Linked DNA regions of Homo sapiens: all the other regions are linked to region 2. Evidence: fine-mapped expression QTL. A gene starts in region 2. Each other region holds a variant in brackets. All regions are shown on one strand. Distances are between the middles of the regions.

The links. PIP is the estimated chance that this variant, and not a neighbour inherited with it, causes the effect. A credible set is the group of variants that fine-mapping cannot tell apart.
Region 1: its variant is the best candidate, but not a certain one, in a credible set for the expression of DELE1 in whole blood (INTERVAL, PIP 0.58).
Region 3: its variant is the best candidate, but not a certain one, in a credible set for the expression of DELE1 in testis (GTEx, PIP 0.79).

The regions. Positions count from the first base shown.
Region 1 is chr5:141,811,289-141,821,113 of GRCh38, reverse strand. All of the region lies in intron 1 of LOC107986454 (a long non-coding RNA gene), which reads left to right. Among named protein-coding and RNA genes, the nearest start is that of PCDH1, 62 kb to the left of the region's middle. RefSeq lists enhancers at 3,482-4,472, 4,473-5,464, 8,516-9,164. The variant C/T (reference allele first, on the strand shown) is at 4,336.
Region 2 is chr5:141,919,618-141,929,442 of GRCh38, reverse strand. It overlaps DELE1 (DAP3 binding cell death enhancer 1), which reads right to left and starts at 5,572. Exons shown (of 12, transcript NM_014773.5): 1 at 5,471-5,572; 2 at 4,748-4,862; 3 at 3,916-4,033; 4 at 1,145-1,292. The coding sequence starts at 5,501. RefSeq lists enhancers at 1-122, 5,178-5,691.
Region 3 is chr5:141,945,201-141,955,025 of GRCh38, reverse strand. It overlaps PCDH12 (protocadherin 12), which reads left to right. Exons shown (of 4, transcript NM_016580.4): 1 at 1-54; 2 at 3,436-3,533; 3 at 5,443-5,594; 4 at 9,221-9,825. The coding sequence ends at 9,645. It also overlaps a transcript of RNF14 not described here. Among named protein-coding and RNA genes, the nearest start is that of PCDH12, 8.1 kb to the left of the region's middle. The variant T/C (reference allele first, on the strand shown) is at 4,047.

The DNA.
Region 1 (9,825 bases), 110 kb after region 2:
TACAGGCATGCGCCACCACGCCTGGCTAATTTTGTATTTTTAGTAGAGACGGGGTTTCTCCATGTTGGCCAGGCTGGTCTCAAACTCCCGACCTCAGGTGATTCGCCTGCCTCAGCCTGCCAAAGTGCTGGGATTACAGGTGTGAGTCACCACACCTGACCAGCTACCAGAAAGTTTTAAAAAACATCTAGGCTGGGCGCGGTGGCTCATGCCTGTAATCCCAGCACGTTGGGAGGCCGAGGCGGACGGATCACTTGAGGTCAAGAGTTGGAGACCAGTCTGGCCAACATGGTGAAACCCTGACTCTATTAAACATACAAAAAATTAGCCGGGCATGGTGGCGCATGCCTGTAATCCCAGCTACGCAGGAGGCTGAGGCAGGAGAATCGTTTTAACCTGGGAGGCGGAGGTTACAGCGAGCTGAGATCGCACCACTGCACTCTAGCCTGGGCCACAGAGCGAAACTCAGTCTCAAACAAACAAACAAACAAAATCCATACACACACAGAAAAACTTCTGGCACCGTTGCCTATCAGCTTTTTCTCAAACTGTGTCCTCTTCCTAGAATGGACTTCTCCTATCTTCCCACCTAAGTAAGTCCTACCTTTGCGTCAAGGCACAGCTATAGCCATTGTCATGGTGGGGTCCCAGAGCAGGGACTCTGGCGTCTCCTCTTGAGCTTGAAAATCTACTCTGCCGCTTAATAGCTGTGGAAAATTTGGGCAACTCGCTTAATCCTCCCTGAGCCTTAGTCTCCCCATCTGTAAATGGGATAATAATAGCAATCACACATACCCAGAGGCTTAAGAGTGAGGATTAAATCAGAAAGGTCACATGTAAAATGTGCTTACACAGTAAGTGCTCTATTAAAGTGGTAGTTATTTAGAATGATACTCTAGTAAGCTATCCCAGAGCTCCCCAACTGGGAATTAACTGTGTCCCACTCTGACATGTACCTTGGGAACACAGGGATTCCACCTTTAGGGTTTCTGACTAAATCATTTTTCACAGTCTGCCCTGAATCAGCTATTATGTAATGAATCTGGCAGTCCCTAGCCAAGCTTTGCACTTAGTAGGTACTTGCTAAGACAATAAATGCTTGTTTAAAATATTGCCCACCTAGTCAAATTCCCAAACCCTGTAAAACCCCACTAAATTCTAATCTATTTGTCCTGAGTCCCACACAATGCCTGGTTCAGCCACTTCCAGTAGAGTGGGAAATGGGGAGCAGTGGAAGATGGGCTGGGGCCCCAGGAGGAGAGGGGAGATGAGAGGTGGGAAATAAATGGAGCCTGTAAGGGGTTTTACTGTGTCCAGGCCACATGGATCAATCTGTTTTCACTGCCCCTCCATAGGGCACTTTAAATTCCACCCTCGTCTTTGATTAACCAATGGCTGACCTGAGACAGGTCTGCTTGTGCAGGTCCTCATCCAGCCAGAGGAGGTGTATATTGATTAGCTAGACTAGGGCAATGAACTGTACAGGCTCTGGATTGCCTAAAAGGCCCCTTGAGAGGTGGTCCTTGTGGGCGAGGGAAATCTCTGAGTCACCGTGGGTACTCATGCACTTGCCCATGAATAACCATACATTTATATGTGTATGTTTGTGGGTAAATACTGGCCCTTTTATCTTGGTGTGTATTCAGTAATTCATTCATTTGTTCATTTATTATTTATTGAGGCCCTACTGTGGGCTAGCACAATGCCGACGCTAGAATGTGGTAGTCGCTAAGGCAAAATTCCTGCCCATACTGAGCTTTTTTTCTAGCGAGTGGAAAGAGTAACAGTAAAGCAAAGAAATTAACAATTTAGTTTTAGATCGTGAAAGTGCTGTAAAAATAATAAAACAAGATAAAGGGATAGAGAGCAACAGTGCATGTAGAGGGAGCTCCTTTAGGACGAGTGGTTTGGGTCAAGACCTAAATGATGAGAACAAATCAGCCTCAGAAAAAATCTGGAAACAGAGCATTCCAGGCAGAGGGCACAGCAAGTGCAAAAGCTCGGAAGAATTGCTTTGGGCCAGTGACTCTAGGAATCTGTGTCATTCTGAGGCAAATGTCAATCAGCTTTTATTGCACGTACACATTTGTATCTTTCCATTGCTGTTAGAATCATGCCAACCTCCTCACTGAGACCTACAGTCTTACAACCCCACCCACTGGCCTCCAATCCCATTGGCTTCTTCAGGTCCTTGAATAAGATGGATTCCCTCCTGCCACAGGATCTTTGCACAGTCTGATCCCATCACCCTGCATACTGTTTCCTCCCCTCTTTCCAGAATTAAATCCTTTTTTCTTTCTTTCTTTCTTTCTTTCTTTCTTTCTTTCTTTCTTTCTTTCTTTCTTTCTTTCTTTCTTTCTTTTTCTTTCTTTCTCTTTCTTTCTTTCCTTCCTTCCTTCTCTTTCTTTCTTTCTTTTTTTCTTTCTTTCTCTTTTTCCTTCCCTCTCCTCTCCCCTCCCCTCTCCTCCCCTCCCCTCCCCTCTCTCTTCTTTCCTCTCTCTTCTCTTCTTGCCCAGGCTGGAGTGCAATGGCACGATCTCGGCTCACCGCAACCTCTGCCTCCCGGGTTCAAGCAATTCTCCTGCCTCAGACTCCTGAGTAGCTGGGACTACAGGCATGTGCCATCACACTCGGCTAATTTTGCATTCTTAGTAGAGACGGGGTTTCTCCATGTTGGTCAGGCTGGTCTCAAACTCCCGACCTCAGGTGATCTGCCCACGTTGGCCTCCCAAAGTGCTGGGATTACAGGCGTGAGCCACCGTGCCTGGCCTTTTTTTTTTTTTGAGATGGAGTCTCACTCTGTCACCCAAGCTGGAGTCCAGTGGCACAATCTCTGTTCACTACAACCTCCACCTCCCAGGTTCAAGTGATTCTTCTGCCTCAGCCTCTTGAGTAGCTGGGACTACAGGCATGTGTCACCATGCCAGGCTAATTTTTGTATTTTAGTAGAGATGGGGTTTCACCATGTTGGCCAGGGTGGTCTTGAACCCATGACCTCAGGTGATCCACCCACCTCAGCCTCCCAAAGTGTTGGGATTACAGGCATGAGCCAGTGTGTCCGGCCAAATCCTACTTTCTTTAGCTCTCAGGAAGCCTACGGTGGGTCACCCTTCTACCTTCTACACTAGATCAGTTTCCTTTGTTAGATGCTTTCATATTACCAAGTTCCTATAGTCAACTTCTTATCTTACTTAGTAATTATGCATTATCTTATCTGATATTAGTATCTGACTTCCCACCAGAATTACAACCCTCTGGGAAAGCTGGTTATCTGAGATTTTTTTGTTTGTTTTTTGAGACATACTCGCTCTGTTGCCTGGGCTGAAGTAGAGTGGCCCGATCTTGGCTCACTGGAATTTCTGCCTCCCAGGTTCAAGCAATTCTCATGTTTCAGCCTCCAGAGTAGCTGGGACTAGAGGTGCCCGCCACCACGACAAAGCTAATTTTTGTATTTTTAGTAGAGACAGAGTCTCGCCATGTTGGACAGGCTGGCCTTGAACTCCTAGCCTCAAGTGATCCACCTGCCTTGGCCTCCCAAAGTGCTGCGGTTACAGGCATGAGTCACATTCCCAGCCTGAGGGCTTGTTATCTTACCTGTGTAACTTATCTGTATCCCCTTTATACAGGGGAATATATTGACAGCCTTCAAATGTGTTCTATGTTCAATATATTCAATATATTCAGTATATTCAAAATATATTGGCAGCCTTCAAATTCTGCGAGGCTGTCACATTGCAGAGGAAGACCATGTTAACATAGGAGCAGGGAGGTGAAGAAGTGGGTTGTTAAGGAGAAGTGGGTGGGGTTCCTTCTAAGGAAGGTCTTATAAGAATGAGAAGTTTCAGGGGTAGAACAGGTGCCTTAGGAGGTAGTGAGTTCCCTGTCCTTGGGGGTCTGTAAGCAGACAGGAGAATAGAGGGAGGTGCCCCAGGGAGTCTTCATGTCAGCATCAAGGTTCTGTGATTAGTAGTCCACCAGCTGACCAGGTCCTTCAACCCCAACGCAGCTGTAACAATGGGAGCCCCAGGTGCTGAGTGGTGCTGGGTCTGACCCAGTGAGATAAGCGTCTGACTTAAGGAACTTGGGGGTGGACAGGGTCGTTCCCAGCTTCAGACTCCATCAGGGACTCTAGGTGGCTGCTGCTCCCCCTCCTTTCTGCCTAGCTCTGAAAGGGCTAGGAAGGAGGGAAGGCAGCGGGTGGGGGTGGGAGGAGGAGCTTCCGCAAGTCTTAAGTGGCTCCCCAGCTGGAGCTATGGTGCATATTTTAAGTGGAGTTTACAGACAATGGATCTCTCTAGGGCTTGGAGGGGAAGGAAGCAGAAATTCAGGACCATT[C/T]TGTGAATTCCCAAGTTCTTTGTGTCCATTGTGTAGGGAACAATGCTGTTTGTTCGGCACATTCACTCAAGATGGGGGATGGGGGGAGATGGTTAGGCCCCAGTGTTCCGAGGTTCTTCGAGGGGCGGGGCTGCTCGGGGAAGGGGTGGATGGAAGCTGGAGGGGCTGGGGGTGAGCCTTAAGGGAGGTGAGGATTCCAAGTCTGGTTGTGTGGGTTTGAGCTCCAGGACAGCTCCCTTTAGTACAAATATTGCTTCCCCTCTACACCTCTCCACCCTTCTCCAGAGATTCTAATCCTCAGAGGCTTCTGACCTTGATGTGTTGTCCAAAGGGTTGGGTTGGGGGGCTGAGGAGGAGTGAAGCTGTCTGTTCACCAGGTAACCTTGGACAAGCCACTGCCTCCCGGAGGCCTCACCCTCTTGCTCTATTTCCACAGTTGAAGGGCCAGCTAGAGATGGTCTCTCACAGCCACAAAATTAGGTCCCTTCCATACCACATCCTCAATCTCACCAAGCCTGGGCTCCTTCCTGACTCTCACCCAGTAAGTTCACAATCTTGGTTGCCAGTGGAGGCTGTATATCCCCAGAGTGAGGGAAATGAGAGATGAGGCCAATGTAGGGCCTAGAACCTCACTAATAAGAAAATCTTCACTTACTGGTTAGTTAGCAGCTGCTGGACACTGTGCATACATTCTCTTATAGGGCCTGGGATTAAAAGCTCTGCTCCTAGCCAGGCACAGTGGTACTGCACACCTGTAGTCCCAGCTTCTTGGGAGGCTGAGGCGGGAGGATTGATTGAGCCCAGGAGTTCGAGAACAGCCTGGGCAACATAGCAAGACCCTGTCTGTTAAAGAAAAAGTCCCATAGCTGGGTCACCTTAACCACCTTAACATCTCTGAGCCTCAGTTTCCTCTCTGTAGGATAAACTAGATATAGTAATAATAATATCTACCTCACTGGGCTGTTATGAGGATTAAACGAGATTACATCTCAAGCACTGTCTCTGGAAGGGTGGTAGAGCTTATAAATATTGGTCATATACCTATATATAATTACTATCTCCATTTTTCATATATGGAAAGCAAGTCTTGGAGAAGGTAGGCATCACACAGTGAATAAATTAGGGCATGATAATTCAAATCCAGGCTGGTTGATTCTGAAGCTGAGTTGCTGACCATTGCTCAGCACCTCCTGCAGAGATGGGATTGATGCCTGTCCTGACTTTCCAACAGCACCTGCCAATGGTCCAAAAGCCAAGTTTCCTTCTCCCAGCAGGAGAAGTTGCATTGTTTAACCAGGGCTGGAGTCTGAGACTCCCCTCTAGCCCTTCCCACAATCCTACTGTAAATTAGAGTCCCCTCACTCCCCAGTGACCTCTGCAAGGTAGTGTCTTATGCTGGAGGGGCACCAGAGTTAGGGACAGGAGCAGCCTCAGTACTCCTAGGCTGAGTTCCAGAGCCCAGTTGTTGCACCTGGCCTCTGAGCTACAGTTTGGCTGGTGGCTGGAGACCTGGGCCTGGAGGCTGGGACCTGGCCCTGCTATGCTTGGAGCCATAAGGCCATCAGACAGCCTGGCTAGGTCTTGGATCTCCACAGAGATAGAGCTGGGAGAGGCACAGATCCATGAACTGAGACAGATCTGGGAATGAGAGTAGACACTGGAGCCTTGGAGTTGGGGGGTCCACAGGTTGGCAGAAGGCACTGAGCCATGGCTCCTTCCCATTCCTGTCCTACCCCTCATCCACCTTAGTCCTACTCTTGCCATCCATTTCTCTCTCTCTGGTTTTGGGTTCTCCATTGAATAAGAAGAGGAAGAAAAAAAGGGAGAGAACTGGGGGAAGGGGTGTCCACTTTGCCAATGTGAAGCAGCTCTTGTTCTATGAATGAAGGTGATGCGGGTTCAGGGTGGAGGAAGGGGGGTGGAAGGAAGTGCTGGGTAGGGCAGCCTGGGATGGGGTTGCCATGGGAACGGCAGCCTGTCAGGAGCCCTGCCTTCAAAGCTGAGGTGCCTCCTGGGGGAGGCGGGTGGTGTATGCGTGTCTGGGGTCGGGGAGCAGCTCTGATGTAAGCCCCCTGGGACTCTAGCTCCTGGATTCCAGATCAAAACCTTAACCTGGGTGGGAAGCAGCATCATGCGATGCTTCCTGTCAGACAACCCTCAGCCTCAAACCCTTTTCTGTGGAATGTAAGGCAGGGATGGGGGTGGAATCAACCCTGGTGGGAGGCGGGCTGTGATGGAAGTTGTCTGCCAACACTACCCCCTTCATTTCAAATGGGGCAGGAGGGAAAGGGGCTCTTACTGGGTGGAGGGGAGTAATGGGGAAAAAGGGGGTTTGCTTCATTCTCTAGGCCTCGGTTAGGGGCCAGGCTCCACAATGACAGTTTCCTGAGGCATCTGGCTCCAATTCCTCAGAGAGCTTGGAACCTAGGAATAGGGCTCAGAGGGAAGGAAGCCCACTGGGCTGTTTGTGAGATCTCCAGCTGCCCTCACTCCCATCCCACACCACCGCTACCATGACCCTCTGGCCACTAGGGGGGGCCATGGCCCAGCATCCATGGGGTTGAGGGACAGGTCAGTCCAGAGACCCAAGGTGGCCCAGTAAGGTAGTGTGGCTGAGATGTAGCCTCAGTGGCATTTGCCTTTCATGAGGTTGGCCCAGCTCATCCAGGCCCCAGCAAAACCTGAGGGCCTTTAGAGGGCACTCAACACCCTGGCACTGCCAATTCAGTCCCTCCTTCTCAGCTGCCCAGGCAGACCTTTCCAGAGACCACCAGCCAATTCAAAACAGCTCTCAAGTGCCTACTACTCGCCAGCACTGTGCTAGGCATTGCCAGCGATTTTGAATCTAATGGGGGAGATGGACACTAACAGAGGCTTAAAACACATGCACCGAAGTCAGGAAAACCTGGGCTTGAATCCTCACTTTACTATTTCTAACTGGGTGAGTGACCTTGTGCAAGTTACTTAATTTGTGTCTCAGTTTCCTTATCTGTAAAATGATAATAGTACTGGAGATGCAGGGAGCTGTGAGGAGGATTAAATGAGAAAGCATGCTTAAGGCCTTTGCTGCAGCATCTGGCACACAGGAAACCCTCACTAAAGGGAACTATTGTTAGTAGGTGAACCAAGGTGCTGAGTACTAGCATGGAGGTAGAAGCAAAGTGACGAGCAGTCCTGGAGAAAATAAAAATTCAATCTGGGCTGGGCATGGTGGCTCACACCTCCTAGAACTTTGGGAGGCCAAGGCAGGAGGATAGTTTGGGTCCAGGAATTCAAGACCAGCCTGGGTGACATAGAGAGATCCTGTCTCTACAAAAAAATTTAAAAATTAGCTGGACATGATGGCACGTGCCTGTGGTCCCAGCTGCTCGGGAGGCTGAGGTGGGAGGATTGCTTGAGCCCAGGAGGTCGAGGCTGCAGTAGGCCATGATCATGCCTCTGCACTCCAGCCAGGGTGATGGAGTGAGACCTTGTCAAAAAAAAAAAAGAAGGAGGGCTGGGCATGGTGGCTCACGCCTGTAATCCCAGCACTTTGGGAGGCCGAGGCAGGCGTTATCACCTGAGGTCAGGAGTTTGAGACCAGCCTGGCCAACATGGTGAAACCCTGCCTCAACTAAAAATACAAAAATTAGCCGGGCATGATGGTGGGTGCCTGTAATCCCAGCTACTTGGGGAGGCTGAGGTGGGAGAATCACTTGAACCCAGGAGGCAGAGGTTGCAGTGAGCTGAGACTGCACCACTGCACTCCAGCCTGGCGACAGGGTGAGACTCCATCTTAAAAAAAAAAAAAAATAGAAAACGAAAAAAAAAGAAAATTCAATGTGTTGAGATTATCAGGGAGGGCTTCTTGGATGTGGTGCCTGATATGGGCCTGAAGGAAAGACAATATTTCTATAGCAGGGTTGGTAAGGGCTGTAGCAGGTAGAAGGAACTCCAGGAGGAAAGGCATTTAGGAACCTTACTTTATTTCATTCTTGCAGCACAAAATGGCAGCCCTATGTCTCCCTCCTGGGGCGTCTCTCTCCTACATCCCTATTTCCAGAGGCTCTCCCACCCACCTGGAACCCTGCCTTGGGCTCCCTCCTCCTGCTCCTCCTCCTCTTCCTTTCTCTTTCACTCCCACTCCTATTCATCTTCTTCTTCCTCCTTCCTTCTTCCCTAGAGAAGCCAGCTCAGAGAGAGCACGTTTCATAAACAGTGACCACTGCCCTATGAGTGCCTGGACCAGTAGCTCTCACCCAGGGGTGGTTTTTTCCCCCCAAGGGACATTTGGCAATGTCTGGGGACATTGGTTGTCACAACTAGGGGTGGGGGGATGCTGCTAGCTTCTAGTGGGTAGAGGCCAGGGATGCAACTAAACAATCTACGGTGCACAGGACAGCCCGCACAACAAAGAAGCACCTGGTCCCAAATGTCAATAGTGCTGAGGCTGAGAAACCTTGGCTTAGGCAGAGAACTGCAGCTGGGGAGAAATGCAGCCCCCTGCCCCGGGCTCCTCCAAAACCCCACCCCAGGAGTCCCTGATCCCCTTCCCCAGTCTCTTCCCATCTTCTAGTCCAACCCTCAGTGTCCCCTGGCCTCATACTACCCACCACTCCTGCGCGTCTGCCCCCTCTCCTCGGGTCTTGTCCCCGCTCTTATCCTCTCCCACCGCAGGGGCTGTGGAAGGCCTGTCAGGCAGGAGTCAGCCTGCGGCTGCACGAGGCTTCGGAGACCAAGCTGCCTGCTGCACTCGGTGCTGCCTGTCCACTGATTGGCCGAGGCTGCCGTTTCCATGGTGATCTACGGCAAAGCCCAGGCCCCCCCACCCCCTTAGCCCCCGCGACAGGCCCTATTCAGTGGCGAGAGCCCCGACAGTCAGGTTAATAAAACAGGAGCCGCGTGAGGAGCCGGGCTGTGGGCCGAGGTCCCAGCGTGGTGGCCCGCCCGGAGGAGAGGGGGACGGATGGGGGCAGGGAGCGAGGAGCTTGCTTGCTGCCCAGTCGCCGCCCTCCCCGACTCTGCCAACTGCAGGTTATGGGGCTGCACCAGCTCTCGGGGACTTGGGGTTCGTCTCCTGGAATGCACCTTCCCATAGTGGCCTCTGGGGGCAGTGTCCCCTCCCCCATGGGTTCCACTGGGCCCCTCTAATCAGAAGGGTTGGAGTTCTGGGGCTGGGGCTGAGGAAAGGGAGAGATGGAGATGGGGTAAAGAAGAAAAATGGCAGGGAAAGACTAGAATGGGAATCGGGTGGGAGACTGGGGTGAGATGGGGATGGATGGGAGTGGAGTCCAGGTTGGGGATGGAGAAATGAAAAGGGGAATGAGGAAGGAGATGGGAATGAGGCCAGGGGGAGGAAGGGATGAGTTGGAGGAAATGGAAGGTAGAGACCTGCGCATGGAGAAGAGGCTGGGATGGGGAGAGGGAGGGAGCTGGTGGAAGGTGCAAGGTGGAGAGGAGCATGGGATGCAGGAAGAAGGTGGAGATGAGAAATTGGGATGGGAGCTAAGA
Region 2 (9,825 bases):
CCCCATCTGTACTAAAAATACAAAAAATTAGCGGGGTGCAGTGGCACATGCCTGTAATCCCAGCTACTCAGGAGGCTGAGGCAGGAAAATTGCTTGAACCCAGGAGGCGGAGGTTGCAGTGAGCCAAGATCACACCACTGCACTCCAGCCTGGGTGACAGAGCAAGACTGTGTCTCAAAAGAAAAAAAAAGAGTGATCAGGTCAGAAGAGGATCAGTGCAGGCTGCTCGGGCTTGACTGAGTCCTCCCTGAGGTTTTAGAGGCCATAGGAAGAATTTTGAAACTCCTGTGACACTTCCTTCACACTCCTCCTCCTCTGTTTCCTTGGCTTCCCTCCAGAGGAGTCTAGAGGGGCCTGTATTTGTGCTGATCTCCCACCCTAAGCATCAATCACTCCTCTGCCTAAATTCTTCAGTGGCAGGGAGGCATCTACCTTACTCACTGTTGTAGCCCCAGTACCTAGCACTTTCTTTGATAGCAATATTGCTAATGATTATCATCATAATAAGGACAAGAACTAATGCTTAAACTAATAATTACTACACACTTACTATGTGTCAGGCACTGCCCTAAGTCCTTGACATGTATTAACTCATTTAGTCCTCCCAAGAAACCTATGGGGTGGGTTTTATTATTACCCCAATTTATAGATAAAGAAACCGAGGCAGAAGGAAGTTAAAAGTGACTTGTTCAGGGACATAAGACTAGTATGCAGCAATTTTGGGACTTGAACCTCTATAATCTGACTCCAGAGCCTCAACCACTAGGCTATGTTGCTTCTGCACCATGGCACATAATAGGTGCTCAATAAAGATTCATTTATTTATGAATGACTGAGTGACTGACCAGAGAATAATTTAACTGGTTGAATGTGGGCCAGGAAGCCACACCCAGAATCTAAAGTAGTCTGGACCCTGTGGGCCTCCCTTGGTTGGAGGTGATGGGAGGAAATGGAAAGACACTGAGGGGCAGGTGTGGCCCATGCCCTGGGTGGATAGAACTTCCCCACATTCCTCTTCCTCTGACTTCAGATAGGAAAGGCAAGGAGCTGCTGATGGCTCTTTTCCTGAGGTGTGTCCAGAGACGCTTCCTGGCCCAGAGAAACGCCCAGCCCAGCCCTCCTGTCCCCAGGACTGAGAACTCACAGGAGCATGGGTGCCACAAGGGAGATGAGAAGAAACGGTCCAGGGGACTGTGCCAGGAGCAGTGTTCTACCCGCTGAGGTCCTGCTGGCAGGGATGCCTGGAAGTGGATCTGCCTTGCCAGCTGCAGGGCCAGCACGGCCAGAGTGCCCTGGGAAAGACAGCACGTTAAGGACACGGTCCTTCACCAATCAACTCCATCAGACCCGGCCTTATTCTCAAACATCACTTCCTCAGGAAATCCAGGTGGGGCAGCTCCCCGACTACAAACTTTCACAACACCCTAACTTCTCTGGAGCCCTGACCACACTGGCATTTAAACAATCATCTCTACATTTATTTATCTAAGGTCTGTCTCTCCTGTTAGTCTATAAGCACGACATGGGCAGGGACCATGTGTGTTTTACTCACCAATGTATCTCTGGTGCCCAAGTACAGCACAGTGCTAATATATAGTAGGGACCTAATAAGTACAACCTGAATAAATGCTTGATCAAGTGACTAAATAAGCGAAGACTAAGCAGGCAAAAAGATAATGGGGTAGGTTGGCACCTAGTTGCAAATATAGCAACAGGTCAGAGTTCCCCATTAGGCTCTCTTTCCAGTCTTGCACAACCCCTCCTTCCACCAACTCCCATTCCCCCAGTGAAGCCACCCCAGCACACACACATCTCCAGGTGTAAGCTTTGTAAAGGTGTTTCTTCTCTGACAGGTCTGCAGAAGACCTGAGCTAGCTCTTATCCCAGAGACTCCTTGGTTTTCCCTGTCTCCTGTCTCTCCTTATGTTATGCTTAAGAAGGTTGACCCAGGGTCGGGTGCAGTGGCTCATGCCTGTAATCCCAGCACTTGGGAGGCTGAGGCAGGTGGATCACTTGAGGCCAGGAGTTGAAGACCAGCCAACATGGAGAAACTCTGTTCCACTAAAAATACAAGAATTAGCCAGGCGTGGTGGGGCACACCTGTAATCCCAACTACTCGGAGGTTGAGGCATGAAAATTGCTTGAACCTGGGAGGCAGAGGTTGCAGTGAGCCAGGATCGCACCACTGCGCTCCAGCCTAAAAAAAACACACAGGTTGACCCAGATACTTACTTGTTGCTCCAGGCACTGCATACAATAGCAAGTAAGACAGACATAATTTCTGCCCTCATGAAGTTTATATCTTGTGTTTAGAAAGACAAAACACAACTACAGAGAGAAATAGAGTAATTACTAGTGATGTTAAATGCCAAGAAGGAAACTAATCAGAGAGTTACACAGAGCATAAAAGGGGTCCTGACAAGACAAGGAGTCAGGGAAAGCCTGTCTGTGGGGGTGACGTGTGGGCTAAGGCCAGAAGAAAAGGCACCAGCATTGTGAAGAACAGAGACAAGTATCCATGGTACTGAGGACAGCTTGCGTGCAGACCCTTTCATATGAGCAGTAGTGACAGAGCACAGGGATGGCATTGGGACTTCTGGAATCCAGGCCCACTTCCTACTTCTCACTATGGGACAGCCCTAGGGCTCAGATCTTCTTTGGCAACATGGGAAAATGCTCCTCTCTTCAGGGTATGATATGGCCTTAGTCCACAGCTCCCCATAGAGGGGTAACCCTGTCATGGAGACATCCCAGGCTCAGCTCTGCTGATGACACCAATTTACAGATGAGAAAGCCAAGGGTCACACAGGTCAAGTCATTTGTCCAAAGTACACAGCACGAAAGCAGCAGGGATGAGCTGTGACAAACATGAGAGTGATGTGTGTGTCAACTTCATTCAGAAGATCTTATAAGCAGAACTTCCACCTGGAACATTGCCTGAAAAGCGAAGACTCTGCCCTATGAGACCTAGTGTTCACTAGTAAGAATCTGACCTTATAGATCAGGTTCAACAAATATTTTTGAGCAACTATTACGGGCTAGGCTCTGTATTTGATGCAGCAACCAAGCAGTAGAACATGAACTCCAGAGTTAAATCTGGCTCCTCCACTTAACAGGTATGAGACCCTACGCATGTTACCTAATATTTCAGAGCCTGAGATTCCTCAGCTGTAAAATGAAGGTGATATTTCCCTTGTAAGATTTTTGTAAGGATTACACAAGATAATGCATGTATAATACTTTACATTAATAAATAATGCTATAAGGCCGGGCGCGGTGGCTCACAGCTGTAATCCCAGCACTTTGGGAGGCCGCGGTGGGTGGGTCACGAGATCAGGAGTTCGAGACCATCCTGGCCAAAATGGTGAAACCCCGTCTCTACTAAAAACACAAAAATTATCCAGGCGTGGTGGCACGTGCCTGTAATCCCAGCTACTTGGGAGGCTGAAGCAGGAGAATTGCTTGAACCCGGGAGACGGAGGTTGCAGTGAGCCAAGATCATGCCGCTGCACTTCAGCCTGGGCGACAGAGAAAGACTCTGTCTCAGAAAAAAATAATAATTTAAAAATAAAAAAAATGAATAATAAAAAAAAGATGCAATGTATTATTATTTATTGTAAGATCCATGAAGGCAAGAATGTATCTATCTTGTTCTCTGCTATGTCCGTAGTGACTAGCAAAAATGCCTGGCCCAGACAAGGTGTTACATAAATGTTTACTGAATTAAATGAGGAAAACATACATGGCGGGGGTGTGGAAAGTGGCAATATCTCCTTGAATATGCTCCAATACCATGGGTTACTTGTTAAATGGACACAGTGATTCCCTAGCCCTTGTTCCAGGTTCGGCTGTATACCCATGAAGGATCATTCTCATCTACACTGAAGGTCAAGGACCAGGCTGGGGAAGCCTTACCCAAGATATGGCATCCCATAGGGTGTTCGGGGAGACACGGGAAGACATCCATTGGAAGGCATCCTTCCATCCATGGGACCTTGGACCCCCGCTCGTGCCTGGGCCATGGGGACCTGACCTAGATGATGAAATAAGAGGCTATCAAGTAGGGGCAAAGGGAGACCAGGGACTGGGTGCGGTGGCTCACACCTGTAATCCCAACAATTTGGGAGGCTGAGGTGGGTGGATCACGAGGTCAGGAGTTCAAGACCAGCCTGGTCAAGATGGTGAAACCCCATCTCTACTAAAAATATAAAAATTGGCTGGGTACAGTGGCTCACACTGTAATCCCAGCACTTTGGGAGGCTGAGGCGGGCAGATCATGAGATCAGGAGATCAAGACCATCCTGGCTAACATGGTGAAACCCCGTCTCTACTAAAAATACAAAAAAAATTAGCCAGGCGTGATGGTGCATGCCTGAAATCCCAGCTACTTGGGAGGCTGAGGCAGCAGAATCGCTTGAACCCAGGAGGCGGAGGTTTCAGTGAGCCAAGATCGCGCCACTGCACTCCAGCCTGGGCGACAGAGCGAGACTCTGTCTCAAAAAAAATAAAATAAAATAAAAATTAGCAGGGTGTGGTGACGGGTGCCTGTAATCCCAGCTACTCGGGAGGCTGAGGCAGAGAACTGCTTGAACCTGGGAGGCGGAGGTTGCAGTGAGCTGAGATTGCCCCACTGCACTCCAGCCTGGGCGACAGAATGAGACTCCATCTCAAAAAACAACAAAAAAAAAAAAATAAAAAAAAAGGGTGACTAGGGGAGGAAATGAGTGGTAAAATGGCAGTATCTTACCTGTCGAGGTTAGGCACAGGAACCAGCAAAGTGGAGGAGGTAGTCTGAGGCCCATCTGGGCTGGTGGACTTAGGAGTCACCCTCCAGAGGCTAGGTCCCAGTGTACGGGGAAGAGCTGTACAGAACAACCAAAACTCAGGCACCTCAACAAGAACCCAGGAATCACTGTCATCTGCCTCAGCAGAGGTTCTTAAACATGGATACACATGGGAATCTTTTATCTACTACAGATTCTAGGGTAGTACCCCAGAACCAATAAACTAAGATTTCTCAGGGTAGAGCATCCACGTTTTTTAAAAGCGCCCATGTGATTCTGCTGGTCTCCTGTGGATGCCAACCACTGTTCTAAGATGACCAAACGTTCATACATATACTCTCACTAATGTTTGGGGCTCTTTGACTCTAAACCTCTCCTCTCTTCACTGGCTATGCCTACTCCATTGGCCCCTAATCCTCTTTCATTCATTCAGTCCACCATCTCCTGCCATTGGACTCCTCCCCCTCCCAACAGTCCTACCAACTTCTTGGACTCCACCCTCTTCTAGCTAGGCCCATCCACATCTCAAATTCCAGCAGCCCCTGACTTCCCCGCCCTCTTTCAAGCCCCGCCTTCCTTGGCTCTAACCCGGCCCACGATCGCTTCGGCTGTTTCCTCGGGCCCGCCCCCACTCCAGTTCGGTCTTTGCGGCCCAGAGTGACGCTGGTTGCTTGGACGTCCCTTACCTCGGCCCAGGAGTCCCGGGAGGCGCCACATGTCGCTGCCAGCACCACAGAGAGCTCGCAGCCGAAAGCGCGAGACCAACCCTTGGGACAGCGGCTAGAAAGGCCGCCGCGATGCCCCGAGTGGCCGAGTACCCGAGGAAGCTCTGAGCTGGCCAATTAGAAGGGAGCCCGGCCGGAAAGACGGCGCTGCAGAGAGGAAGTGCAGGGCGGAGGCGTATTCGGGGCCAGCGGGGCGGTGACGTGCGGCAAGGGCATGGGGATGTGGGCCCAGGCTTCCGTGGGGGATGTCCTTGGCGTTCCCAAGCCGAGGCAGGGGACCGCAGGTGGCGAAGCGAGCCACCCGGAAGCGGGACCTTCGGGAAGTGGGGCTGGAGCGGCTTCAGGGAAGTAAGAGGACCTTGCAGACCGTGAGGCCGCGAACCAGGAAAGGCTTCTCCAGGCCCTAGGCTTGAGGAAGTGGGAGTAACCAGGCTCCATGGGCGGAGGAGAGGACCCCCGGGGTCCCACAAATGAAGCCAGTAGGCCGGGCTTCCGTCCAAGGCCACCTGCCTGGAGATGCCAGGCCAGGGCCCGACTGCGTAGGCGATGAGAAACCGCACAGGGCAAGGCTTTGATTCTGGGTTCTAGCTCCGGTCCAGCTTTATCTCACTGTGCAGCTTCATGCCAACCCCTTACCTTGTCGGGGCCCCAATACGCGCCAGATAGGGTCAAATGGAATGACTGGCCTGACAAGCTGAGATTCTTGGGTAGCTCCTTTCAAAATACCTGAGACACCACCCGCGCCCTATTAGAACCCTCGTCTTCAGACGTGGCAAAAGTTATGTATGTGTTTGTTCTTTTGTGGAAAAGAATAGTTCCGTCTGGTCCCGGTGGCTCACGCCTGTAATCCCAGCACTCTGGGAGGCCGAGGCGGGCGGATCACCTGAGGTCAGGAGTTTGAGACCAGCCTGGCCAACATGGTGAAACCCTGTCTCTACTAAAAATACAAAAATCAGTTGCGCGTGGTGGTGGGCGCCTGTAATCCTAGCTACTCTGGAGGCTGAGGCAGGAGAATTGCTTGAACACGGGAGACGGGAGGTTGCAGTGAGCCGAGATCGCGCCTGGGCGACAGAGTGAGACTCCATCTCAAAAAAAAAAGGAAAAAAAAATAGTTCCTTTCACCACATTTGAATCCGTGAAATAACGGAGCTTACATTCAAGTATAAGATGTTTAGATTTCCTCCCTATCCCCTTCCTCCAGGTATGTGACTTTAAGGTGAGTGGAAGTTGCTACCTGGGGTAAAAGTGTACTGGGGGCACCTACTTTTAGACCGAGGCATGTGGCTTGAAAGTTGTATTAATATGTTAGACAACTTTTTTTTTTCTTTTGAGACGGATTCTCTGTCGCCCAGGCTGGAGTGCAATGGTGTGATCTCGGCTCACTGCAACCTCTGCCTCCCAGGTTCAAGCGATTCTCTTGCCTCAGCCTCCCAAGTAGCTGAGATTACAGGCGCCTGCTACCACATCCTGCTAATTTTTGTATTTTTAGTAGAGACAGGGTTTCACCATGTTGGCCAGGTTGGTCTCGAACTCCTGGACCTCAGGTGATCCTCCTGCCTTGGCCTTCCAAAGTGCTGGGATTACAGGCTTGAGCCACCGTGCCTGGCCGTTAAAGAACTTTTGAGCCATATATCAGCCCGTTCTAGGATCTGAGAAGACAGCTGAGGAAAGAGCATTTGTGGCCTCCAGGAACACGGTCCAGTGGATTAGTAGTGGGCTTTGGAGTCCCACAAATCTGGGTTGGAATCACAGCTTGCTTACTTCGTAGGTATGTTATCTTGTGCAGGTTCCTTAACCACACTAAGTCTCAAGAGCTTCATCCGTAAAATAGGGAAAATACCTCATGCAATTGTTGTGAGGTTTAAATAAAATAATATGTTAAAAATGTTTAACTTGGTGTTTTGGGAATACCCTTCAAAAAATAAAAAATAAATAAATAAAAATGTTTAGCATAGTTCCTGGCACATAGTAAAAGCCCAGTAAGTGTAAGTTGCTATTAATTATATTAGTAGGGGAGGTAAGCAGGCAAGTGTAATAGGTTAGGTTCCCATAGAAGCATGAACAATGGATTGTGGGATCCCTTGGAAGGCTTCAGAAAAGTAGTTGCATTTGAGCGGGGCCTTTAAATGTGAATAAGAGCTTGCCAGGTGGAGAAGGAAGAAAGGCATTGCAAGCGGAGGAAACAATAAATAAAGGCCCAGAAGTTTGAATGTTGGACAACTATTCAGAAATAGCCTTGCTTCGGGATTTGGGACGGCAACCTTTCACATTCCTTGTGTTGCTGTCCCGAAAATAAAGTAACAAACAAGTATGCTGGTTTGGCTGTGTTCTTCCTCCTGCGTCTTTTGTACCCTCCTTCCTTTCAGACTATCCATAGTTTGTGTCATTTCTCAAGGTTCAGCCCAATCCCAGCTCTTCAGTGTAGACTCCTCAACTGTTTGAGCCCTCCCTGCTCCCTACTTTTCCCAATTCCTATAGCACTTAATTTCTTACTACACAGTTTAGCAGTAATTATATGCTGTCTTGGTATTTATCTCATTTGTGTAACTCTAGCCTTCCCAGTTCTCTCCTTTCAGGACAGGAATAGCATTTCCCTATTCCGTGTCCCACATAGGGCTTGACATAAATTGTCAGCCCAAAGAATATGTCCAAACAATCCCTGTTGACAGAACATCTTGTACTAATGATTATTACAGCCAAGGGTACCAGACCCCAGCCAGGGGATTTACTGATTTGAGTGGAAATGTATTCATTGCAGATACAAACATTCATTGAGGGCCCTCCCTGTTTGAAGCTAGTTGAAAAGTTTTGAAGGAGAGACTAGGACATCTGCCCCCATGTATAGAATGGCATTATGGCATCTCTTGTCCCCATAAACAGAAACATCAGACCACTTGTGTGAGGGTAGATGGCGAGGGTGGCTGGAGCCCACAGCAGATCACCTGTTGAGTGCAGCTCACGGGAGTGCTGTTGGTTGAATGGCAGCTGCCTCAACTGCCAGACCCCAAACTCTGTGGTTTTGGATTGTGGCTCAGTCCCTCTACACAGTCCCTCAAGTTGACTCAATCCTCCACAAAGGTAAACTGACACTGGGAACCTATTGCCTGCTGTCCAGTTAATCACCTTTCATGATGACTACACATGCCATTGTGTACTTTGTGTACTGTCACTACAGTGAGTATTCTAGATACTTGTTGCCTTCATTTTTGTAGGCATTCTTAATTTGCATTAATCAAATATATGACAGCTTATTTAGTGCTAAAGGATATGCTAAGTATATAACAATTTTAAAACATGGATGTGGGCAGGGCGCAGTGCCTCACGCCTGTAATCCCAGCTCTTTGGGAGGCCGAGGTGGGTGGTTCACGAGGCCAGGAGTTCAAGACCAGCCTGGCCAACATGGTGAAACCCCATCTCTACTAAAAAAAATACAAAAAATTAGGCGTGGTGGTGCGCATCTGTAATCCCAGCCATTTGGGAGGCTGAGGCAGAAGAATCACTTGAACCCAGGAGGCAGAGGTTGCAGTAAGCTAAGATCGCACCATTGCACTCCAGCCTGGGCGACAGAGCAAGACTCTGTCTTGAGGAAAAATTAAAACAAAACAAAACAAAACATGGATGTGGTCCTTGCCCTCACAGAAAATAGCCTAGGAGTGCAAACAAAGTCAGTAAGCAATTAAAATACAGAGTGGTGTTTTAGTTACTTATTGCAGCATAACAAACACCCCAAAATTGAGTGGCTTAAAACAATCATTATCTCTCACAGTTCTGCAAATTGACTGGGCTCAGCTGGGCAATTCTGCTGGTCTCACTTGGGGTCTCTCATGAGGTTGTAGTCAGATGGCAGTCATATGAAGACTCAAGTAGGGCATTGGAAAGGCTGGGCCTCTTTCTCCATGTAGTCTCAGGTCCCCTCTGCGCCACATGACCTCTCCAGCTGTGTCGCTGAACTTCTTACACAGTGGCTCAGAGCTTCCAAAAGTACACAAGTGGAAGCTGGCAGGAACTGGCATAGCATCACTTCTGCACTCTGTTGGTTAAAGCAACTCACAGGGTCAGCCCAGAATCAGTGTGGGAGGGGAAAACATAAGGTCACAAATACTGGGAAGTAGACTTTGGAGACAAGCAAGTGCTGTTGTGAAGAAAGTACAGAGTGCTATGGGAACACCCAGGGAAGGCCCATAACCTAGGCATGGAAGTCAGGAAGACTTCCTGGAAGCAGTGATGCTAAATTAACCTGAATGATGAGGCCTGGAAACTAACCAGGTGAAGAAGAGGAAAAGAAACCCAGTTCAGGCAGGGGACACAGCTGACTG
Region 3 (9,825 bases), 26 kb before region 2:
TTCGCCGAGCGGAACCCCGTGGAGGAGCTCACTGTGGATTCTCCTCCTGTTCAGGTACCTGGGGCATGGGCAGCTCTTTCTCTGGTCACTCCTGGACCACCAGAAACAGAATCAGACACCCCCATAACCTGCACAGTCCTCATGTTTCTTCCTTAGGCTCACCTGGCACTTTCTGATGCTTTGGGTAGCAATGGTTCAGGGCACAGCTTTGTGATCGGCTGAACTTAGCTGTGTGATCCTAGGCAAATTCCTTACTGTCTCTGGGCCTTAGTTGTCTTATCTGTAAATTAGAGATGATAGTAAGAGTATCTACCTTGTAGAGTTGTCCAGAGGATTTGATCAATTAATTCCTATAAGGCATTTATGGTGCCTCACAAGTAGACACACAGCAAAGGTAGTGATTAAGAGTATAAGCTTTGGGCAAGGTTACCTGGGTTCAAATCCTGGCTCCACTTCTTCCTAGCTCTGAACCACAGAGGAAGTTAACATCTCTGTTGAAGATGTCTATGTTAACACCACCCATCTTCTAAGTTTGCTTGAAAATAAAATGAGTGAATGCTCTTAATGCCTGTAGAACAGTGTCCATCTGACATGTAGTCAGTACTCAGCAAATTATTACTATTACTTCCTCAAAGCACTTCTCCATCTCCACTATTTGCCTGCCTTCATCTCATCTGGGCAACTTCCCTATGAAGAAGGCCAGCATAGGCATCATTGCACCCAAACCCAGGTGTTGCAAATAATTTGTCTGAGACCCCAGAGCTTTCCGGCTGGGCCTGCGGATGGGGCAGTGGAAATTACCTTAGAACTTAGCAGTTAGGCAGATTGGAGTTCAGATTTCAACACAGCCACTTAGGAGCTGGGCAACCTTGTACACGTCCTTCAACATCTGAGCCTCATTTTCCTCATCTATAAAATGGGGATTATGAGACCAAACTTACCCTGTGTCTGCCTCCTTAGAGTGTGAGGGCTAAATGGGATGATGAGTGTCAAAATGTCTAAGGACCTGGGATTTTCTAGACACAAGTGGGGAAACCTTTCCAGGGATGATGCCTGATCTCACACCCATATCTGCTTCTGTGAACCTCAGATATTTTCACTGTGCCAGGCTGCCCGCCCAAGGCACACTTCTGTTTGGCCAGGCTATCAGCTCAGGTTTCCTGTGAAGCAAAACACAGTTTCCTTCCCTATTCCCTCCTCAGGAAGCCACCTGGAGATGGCCCAGCTGTTCTCTTAGGAATCTTGCCCTGGGATCGGTGCAGACCCAGAGGCTGCCAGAGCCAACCATTCATTTATCCTTCCATTCATCCATCCATTTATCAGGTGCTTTTTGGATAAACTCTGTGCTGAACACTGTGCTGGCTGCTGGTAGACAGGACAACAGAGAATAGGCCCTGTGGGTGACCCCGCTGAGGTGACAGAAAGAAAGGTGCCCATTTGGGATCAACTTGAGGGTAACAGGCAACTTGCCCAATGCTCATATCTTTCCAGCAGCACATAGAGTCAGATCTGAGTGTAAATTCCAGCCCTCCCACTAATTTCTGTGTAGCCCCTGTGAGCCTCCAATTCCACCTCTGCAAAATGGCCATAATGGTATCTCTTCCCTTAGGCTGTTGTAAGAATTAAATGAGATTATACACCACTGGACAATCACTGTTTATCATGGGATTTATTAATAAGCTCATTTAAACCTCGTAACCCACCATATGACCTGGGTCTCATTAATATGCACTTTTTTTACTGTTGAGGAAACTGAGTAATTTTCTCAGAATGCTTAAGTAATTCCTCAAGGCCACACTGATGGGAACTGGGGCAGGGACATATTTAGGATTTGAACCTGAGTCTGACTGATTCGAGTCTGGGCTGTAACTGTGAAGTGACCCTGAATGACAGTGCTCAGCATAGGGCTTGGCATGTAGGGAGTCATGTCATGAAAAGGCAGCTGTCACTTGAGCAAAGGGTGGCAGGTATCTTAGGAGGGCTTCTGGGCCTGGGCTGGGAGGTGGGATCTTCCCTGAGGCAGGCAATAAGACCCCGAGTCTCCCAAGTCACAGTGAAACCCCAGTCCTGGCCATCTCCTCTTCCAACTCTCCTCTGAGGTTGACACTTCCTACCTCAAGCTGCACAGAGGGGCATGGTGGACCTCCTAAGGGAGGAATGGGGATGGACCCAGGAGGAGGAAGCAGTGTTTCTAGGAATAACAGTGCAAACTCCTTGCTTTTGCAGAGGATTTTTAACTTTTTCAAACCATTTAATCGTGACAACACTGAGAAGAAGGCGTGTGGGTATTTCTAGCCCCCTATTAGAGATGAGGAAACTGAGGTCTGAGGAGGTCTAAAAACCTGTCTAATGCTATACAATAAGCTACAAATGGCCTTGAACTAGAACTCCGCCTCCCAGGACTTGATCTGTTGCCTCTCCCTTCCAATGGCCTATAGGGTCTGGCCGTGATATCTCACCCATCCCCTACTCCATTCTCCAGTCTTTCTGAAACTCTACCTTCTCTTCCAGCCTTTCAGTGTGCAGTGCTTCTGCCTGAAAACCTCCCCACCCCTTGCCCAGACCTTCATTCTCTTTCCACTTGCCAAACTCCTATGGAGCCTTTGGGTCTCAGCAGAGGTGCCTGGCATGTGGTATGAACTCAGTAACATCTGTTGAAATGAATGAATTAACTTAATCCAGTACCACCCCCCTGCTTCCTCCCTGCTCCAAGTTGGGTTAGGGGCCCTCTGCTCCCACAGAGCCCCCATTCTTTCCCTATGCCCAGAGGCAACCCCTGTGGTAAACACTCTTCGCTGCCCTGATCTCCAGCCAGCCTCCCTGTGGGGCTGCCTGCAACCTTCACATCCTGACAGATGTGACCACGCTGAGGGCAGCAGCTGGGGCTCCTTCTCCTTCTTACTCCCATAGCAACCACCCTGCCTGGCACTTATTAAGTACTTGTTGAATGAATGAAAAGATGAATAAATGAATAATTCAATGACACCATTTTGCCTTCTCTACAACATAGTCTTACATCTGGTCAACAAAAATTGGCCGAATGTCCAAATACTGCTAAAGGGGAACATAACTCTTTAAGATAATCTTCATCAAAGTAACAACAAATTGATGGTCAGGAAATGCCTTTTTCACCCCATCTCTCAGAGTCCACCAGGTGCAGGACACTCGGAGGAATGAGTATGAGGGGACAGGCCCAGAGGGTCCTCTTGCTCTCCTTCAGACACTCAGGTCCTGGGGTGACATGACAGAGCAGGGGACCTGCCCGCCCAGGTCCCTGTCTCTGTCACTGGGCACCATCCCCCATCTGATCACACAAACATCTGAAGCCAGAGGAAAGACTATAAAAAGAAAGCACCGGCATTGAGGGAAACATCCGGCGAGGAAGTGTGCTGAGTCGGAATTGTGTGGAGTCAACAGATTTTTCCTGTCTTGTAGCAAATCTCCCAGCTGCTGTCCTTGCTGCATCAGGGCCAATTCCAGCCCAAACCAAACCACCGAGGAAATAAGTACTTGGCCAAGCCAGGAGGCAGCAGGTAAGCAGCACGTAGCCCCCACAGGCATCTCAAGGCCCCTACTGGCCGCCCCTCATCACTGCAGCCTCTGTGAGTGAGGAAGGGTGAGCACAAGTCAGACACCGGTCCCCTGGGAGGGTGCAGCAGACAGCATCCATCCTCCCACCCTGGGAGTTTTGGTCGTGAGGTGACTGTATTGATAGTATTTACAGGACCTAGAAGTCCTGTAGGACTAACTAGCTGTATTGATAAATACCATCAATACAGTAGTCACCAAGGAAATGACCTCATCCCTGAGACTGTATTTGTCCCAATTACAGAGGTGCTGTAAATTGCCTTTATATCTGTAACTGTCACCTCTCTTTCTCTTGACCCATAAACATAATATGAAGGCTCCCCACTAAAGACATGGCTGTGTGGGCGTGTCCCTTTGGGCAATCCTAGAATTGAAGACACCTTAAGAGAACATCAAATCCAACTTCTTGTTACGGATGGAGAAACTGAGGCTCTGAGTAGCTTGATTCAAACCAGCTA[T/C]GTAAACTTGAGCAAGTGAGATAATCTCTCAGGACCTTGGTTTCCCCATCTGTAAAACAGAACCCATCCCATTTCCCTTGTGGTAATGGGGTGAGGATTTCATAATCAATTGTATTCTAAGCCCATAGCCCAGCAACTGACACATAGTAGGTGCACACACAATGCTAACTCCTTTCCCCTTGAAGCAATTTTGCTAAAGGTCATGTAACAAGTGAGTGGCAAAGCTGGGACCAGCTCTCAGAGTTCCTGACTCCTGCATCAGTGCTCTTGCCCTGACAACTTACAGCTTCTTTTTACAAGGATGGTGAGAGGTAGTGTACTGCAGGGGTGAGTCCACACACTCCAGGGTCACACTGGCCTGGATTTGAAGTCTTGCTTTATCTCTTAATCTATGGGGACCTTGGGCAACCTGCAAAATCTTCACAAGTCTTGGTTTTCTCATTTGTACAATGGGTTGATTAAAGAGAACCCCTTACAGGTGTGGAAGGTTTGAATAAGACGGTGCATGGACCTTGCATCGCATAAGGCCTGACTCAGACTCACTGCTCAAAAACATTAGTTGTCATTATCACCCACACACTTGCCACCTCCCTGCTCATTTCTTCACAGCAGCAGAAATGGCTACAGGGGAACAAAACCAAACAAACAGAAGGACTCCTACGCCTTAAAACCCCTCAGGTAGCCTTCCCACCTGCTGGGATGAGGGTCCAGGCCTGTCCCCAAGTGTCTATGGGAGAGAGGGACCAGGATGGAGACAGCAGGAGACTGGGGTGCAGGTAGCAGATTCTGAGCAGCTTTAGGCTGCCTCACTCCGGCTGCACCCTCCATAGGTCTGCTCTTCTGGCCTAGGATTTGGCCTAAAGTAGGGAGGAAGGAATGTTCAGTCACTCATTCAGCACCCACTGTGTGCCACGCCCTGTTCTGAGCATCAGTAAGGGAGCAGGCAATGAGACAGGCAAAAATCCCAGCCTTCTCCTACGGACGGATGGACGGCTGCACTGGCTCCACTGAGGTTTACTAAACTCCTCCTGTGTGCCAGGCAATACCTAGACATGGGAGGGGCAACGAGAATGATATCAATGAACTCATCTTCACTTCTGTCTGCTGAGTGCTTACAATGTGCCAGGCTCTGTGGTAGGCCCCTCTACCTACAACGTCTCATTTTACCCTCACAACACCCTGTGAGGTGGGTGTTATTTATTACTCTCATTTTACAAATGAGGAAACAGAGTAAGAGGAGGGCGGGAATCACATGATCCAGGTTGGTCTGACTCTAGAGGCCAGGCTGTGTATCCAGTTCCCTATATGGGTAAATGAATGCAAACATGAATGGGCATGAATGAATGAATCTATATGGGAATGTCCCTACCCATGGACTGGTTGGTTTCTTTTGCAGGAGTGCAATCCCAGACACAGATGGCCCAAGTGCAAGGGCTGGAGGCCAGACAGACCCAGAACAGGAGGAAGGGCCTTTGGATCCTGAAGAGGACCTCTCTGTGAAGCAACTGCTAGAAGAAGAGCTGTCAAGTCTGCTGGACCCCAGCACAGGTAGGGACCCCCTGGAGTTACCTTGACCCTGCTTCTGCCCCATGGTGTCCAAGCTTCAGAGTTCTGCTCCAATCCACTGCAGGGAAAAGCCATTCTGTTTCTGTGGAGGAACATCAGCAACATTTAACTTCCCTTGCACCCTTGCAGCCTCAGAAAGTATTTTAAAGACCAGGTTCTACTTTGATTTTTTTTTTTTTTAGACAGGGTCTTGCTCTGTCACCCAGGCTGGAGTACAGTGGCATGATCACAGCATGATCACAGCTCACTGCAGCATTGACCTCCTGGGCTCAGGTGATCCTCCCACCTTAGCCTCCCAAGTAGCTGGGACTACAGGTGAGCACCACCACCACATCCCGCTAATTTTTGATTTTTTTTTTTTTTTGTAGGGACAGGGATTCACCTGTTGCCCAGGCTGGTCTCCAACTCCTGGGCTCAAGCAATCCACCCACCTCAGCCTCCCAAAGTGCTGGCATTAGAGGCATGAGCCACCTGTAATCAAAGCCAAAGTAGGCACCTGGCCTACGTTGATTATTCATTTTAAAAATCATTGTAAAAATAGTGAACATGCCAGGCACTGGGGAAGCATCTTATGTACATGATCTCATTTAAGCCTCCAACCAATCCCCTCAAGTAGATAATTATTACCTCGAATTTACAGATGAGCAAACCGAGGCTCAAAAAAATCAAGTAGCCTTCCCAGAGTCACCCAGCTCACCAGTGATTGAAGGGGAGCCAAACCCTGAGCCAGCCTGTCCTCTATGGACTTCTTACCACTCATTGGCGTTTGGTGTGTTTCAATACCCTTTCACCCTGGGAACCAGGTCAACTCTTTAATATGCTAACAATTGCAATGAAAACAAAAAGATTTTTTTGCAGAGAAATAATTAGCTTTGACAATAAATACATAATGTGAACTTGAATTCAAGAATCTGCTAGCGCCCCCCGCCCCTGCTGTGGACATTGGTCAGCCTCCTTTGGTAACACACCCCACGGCAGACCATCCCTGTGCTGTGGTTTTCTATCTATGTAGTTAACACTGTTTCTCATGTGCTCCATCTGGCTGCAGACACACTGAAGGTATGGCAGGGACTTCTCTTTCCTTGGTTAAAAAATATTGCTAATGTTTATTGGGCACTTTCTATGTGCTAGGCCCTGTTCTAAGTACCTCATGAGAAAATCTTATGAGATAGGGGCTATTCATTATCCCCATTTCATAAAGGAAAAATGTGAGGGTCAGGGGTGTTTCATAATTTGCCCAAGGTTGTGCAGCTCGTGGATGGTTATTAACACAGGCAGTGTGGCTGTAAATTTTAGAGCTGTGTTGTTCAATGAGGTAGTCACTAGCGACAAGTGGCTATTTAAATTTAAGTGAATTAAAATTAAATAAAATAAAATATTCAGTTCTGCCATACCAGCCACATTTCAAGTGCTCACTGGCTATGTATGGCTGGGGGATATAGCTTTGGATTCTATCTCTATTGGTCAGCTCTGGCTGGAACCTGTGGGGTCAGTTCCCACACGGTCCTGCTTGCCCACAGCACAAAGGGTACTGAACACAGGGGCACTGTAAGGAGTTGGGGGTAAGGAAAGAGGAGGGGCAGAAAAGCCTTTGCTGCTCACAGGCTGGACTGCCATGGGGAGACTGGGATCTTGCTGCTTCAGATCTGCTTCAGATTGCTTCAGATTTGCTGCTTCGGATTCAGATTGCCCCACTTGAGAATGCGACCATGATAATGTTTTCCTGGTTGCATGAACTCACTGAACCTCACAACAACTCCACAAGATACGTACTACTGTCTCACCACTTCCTAAGAGGAAACGGGAGCTTAGAGAGGTTAAGCCATTTTCCCAAGGTCACACACACTGCCCCTAAGCTGCAAAGCTGGGAAATCAAACCCAGGTTGGCCCAGTGCCCACCTGCAGCTAGAACTGGTGGGTGATGCTGGGTGAATTCAGCATCACTTTTCAGCTGTTCTCATACGCCCCAGTGATTTTCTCATTCCAAGCTTCACTCCTTCTGAAGCTCTCTGACCCATGTAAAAGGAAAGGCCTGATTCTATAACACCAAGAGTTCCATCCAACCTTATAGCCTCAGAGTCTCAAGGAACTAAGGTTTGCATTTCCCAAATGTTGAAGGTTAATATTTATGTTCATTCAATCATTCAACAAACATTCACTAAGTCCCAGGCATGGGGCTAAACCCAAGGATCCAGTAGGGCAGGAGCCCAACAGTGTCTCACAAGCTGCACAGTCCAGAATGCAGGGCAGAGATTCATTTATCAGTACAATAAATGACTACACATACTTCGGAATAACTTGTTCAAATTACATAAGTAATATTTGGTTAATATAGAAAAACATAGATAAACAAAAAGAGAATGGATTGCTTCTGCCCAGAGGTAATTTCAGTTAACATTTTGACATATCTCCTTCCAGTCTTTCATTCTGTGCGCAGATTTTAAAGTAACTCACCTTAGGCAAACATTAGATAAATGTTAAGTAGATGTTGTGCTTTTTTTTTTTTTTTTAATTTTTTTAAGACACTGTTTCTTAACTCCAAGACTTATAATTTCTTTCCTCTGGCTTGGTCTCTACCATCAGGCCTGGGACTGGTTTCTTGAAACAGGATTTTCTGTTAAAGGGATGGGAAAAGAAGGGTGACTGTGGCATTGCAAATGTAGGGGCCAGTTTTTTGAATTCCCAGCCACCAGGCTGACTTGCCACCGCCACTACCCCAGTCCCTCTCCTGGGACAGCCCTTGGACAGGCAGCCCCTCCCCAGCCTGACTCTAGGCCAGGGTTCCAGCAGCTTGAGAGATGATGTTGAGGAGGATTTGAGGATCTGGGGCCAGGTGGTAACAGTGCAGACCTTAGGTAGCCTGGGAATTCCAGAGGCCCCAGCTGGGCACCTGGAGTATCCAGGGGGAGGAAGGGCCAGCTCTTCAGAGAGAGGGTAGGGTGGTGCCATCATAGGCTTCAAAGTCATCAGACCTGGCATCAAATTGAGGTTTGGTTGCCTAGCAGATGTGTGACTTAACTTCTTTCAGCTTCAGTTTCCTCATCCATCAAATGGGAATAATACTCTTGACCTCAAAGGTTTGTGAAGTTAAATGAAATAATTATGTAAATTGCTCATCACGTAAGTACCTAATATGTGGTCCCTATTATTATGGATGGGAACCAAAAAAGGCAGCGCTAAGTCAGGAACTCCAGCCTTGGCAAAGAAAAGGGATTTTCCCTCCATCCTCAGCTAGTGGAGCCCTGAGGGGAGAAGGCGCCCTGAGGGGTAAAAATCCTGGATGAAATATAGAAGACACTGAGACTGGAAACACACGCCCAGATTGGGAAATTCTTCAGAAATCGGCAAATTTCTACTTCTAGGCCTTCTCCTCCTCCTGCTGCTTCCCCACTTGGTTCGCCCGGGTGTGTCAGTCGACTGCTTTCCTACCCAGGGAGCTTCCCTGTCAGGGCCTCTTCCTTCCTGTCCCCGTCTGGCCACTCTGTCTGTCCCCTGCCATTTCCCTTCCCTCCTTTGTCCACTGCCCTTGCCCTGCTCATTGCCCCACCCTCACCCGCCTGGCCCTTCCCGGAGCCTGGCCCTCACTGTGTCCCCTCCTTCCCCCACAGGTCTGGCCCTGGACCGGCTGAGCGCCCCTGACCCGGCCTGGATGGCGAGACTCTCTTTGCCCCTCACCACCAACTACCGTGACAATGTGATCTCCCCGGATGCTGCAGCCACGGAGGAGCCAAGGACCTTCCAGACGTTCGGCAAGGCAGAGGCACCAGAGCTGAGCCCAACAGGCACGAGGCTGGCCAGCACCTTTGTCTCGGAGATGAGCTCACTGCTGGAGATGCTGCTGGAACAGCGCTCCAGCATGCCCGTGGAGGCCGCCTCCGAGGCGCTGCGGCGGCTCTCGGTCTGCGGGAGGACCCTCAGTTTAGACTTGGCCACCAGTGCAGCCTCAGGCATGAAAGTGCAAGGGGACCCAGGTGGAAAGACGGGGACTGAGGGCAAGAGCAGAGGCAGCAGCAGCAGCAGCAGGTGCCTGTGAACATACCTCAGACGCCTCTGGATCCAAGAACCAGGGGCCTGAGGATCTGTGGACAAGAGCTGGTTTCTAAAATCTTGTAACTCACTAGCTAGCGGCGGCCTGAGAACTTTAGGGTGACTGATGCTACCCCCACAGAGGAGGCAAGAGCCCCAGGACTAACAGCTGACTGACCAAAGCAGC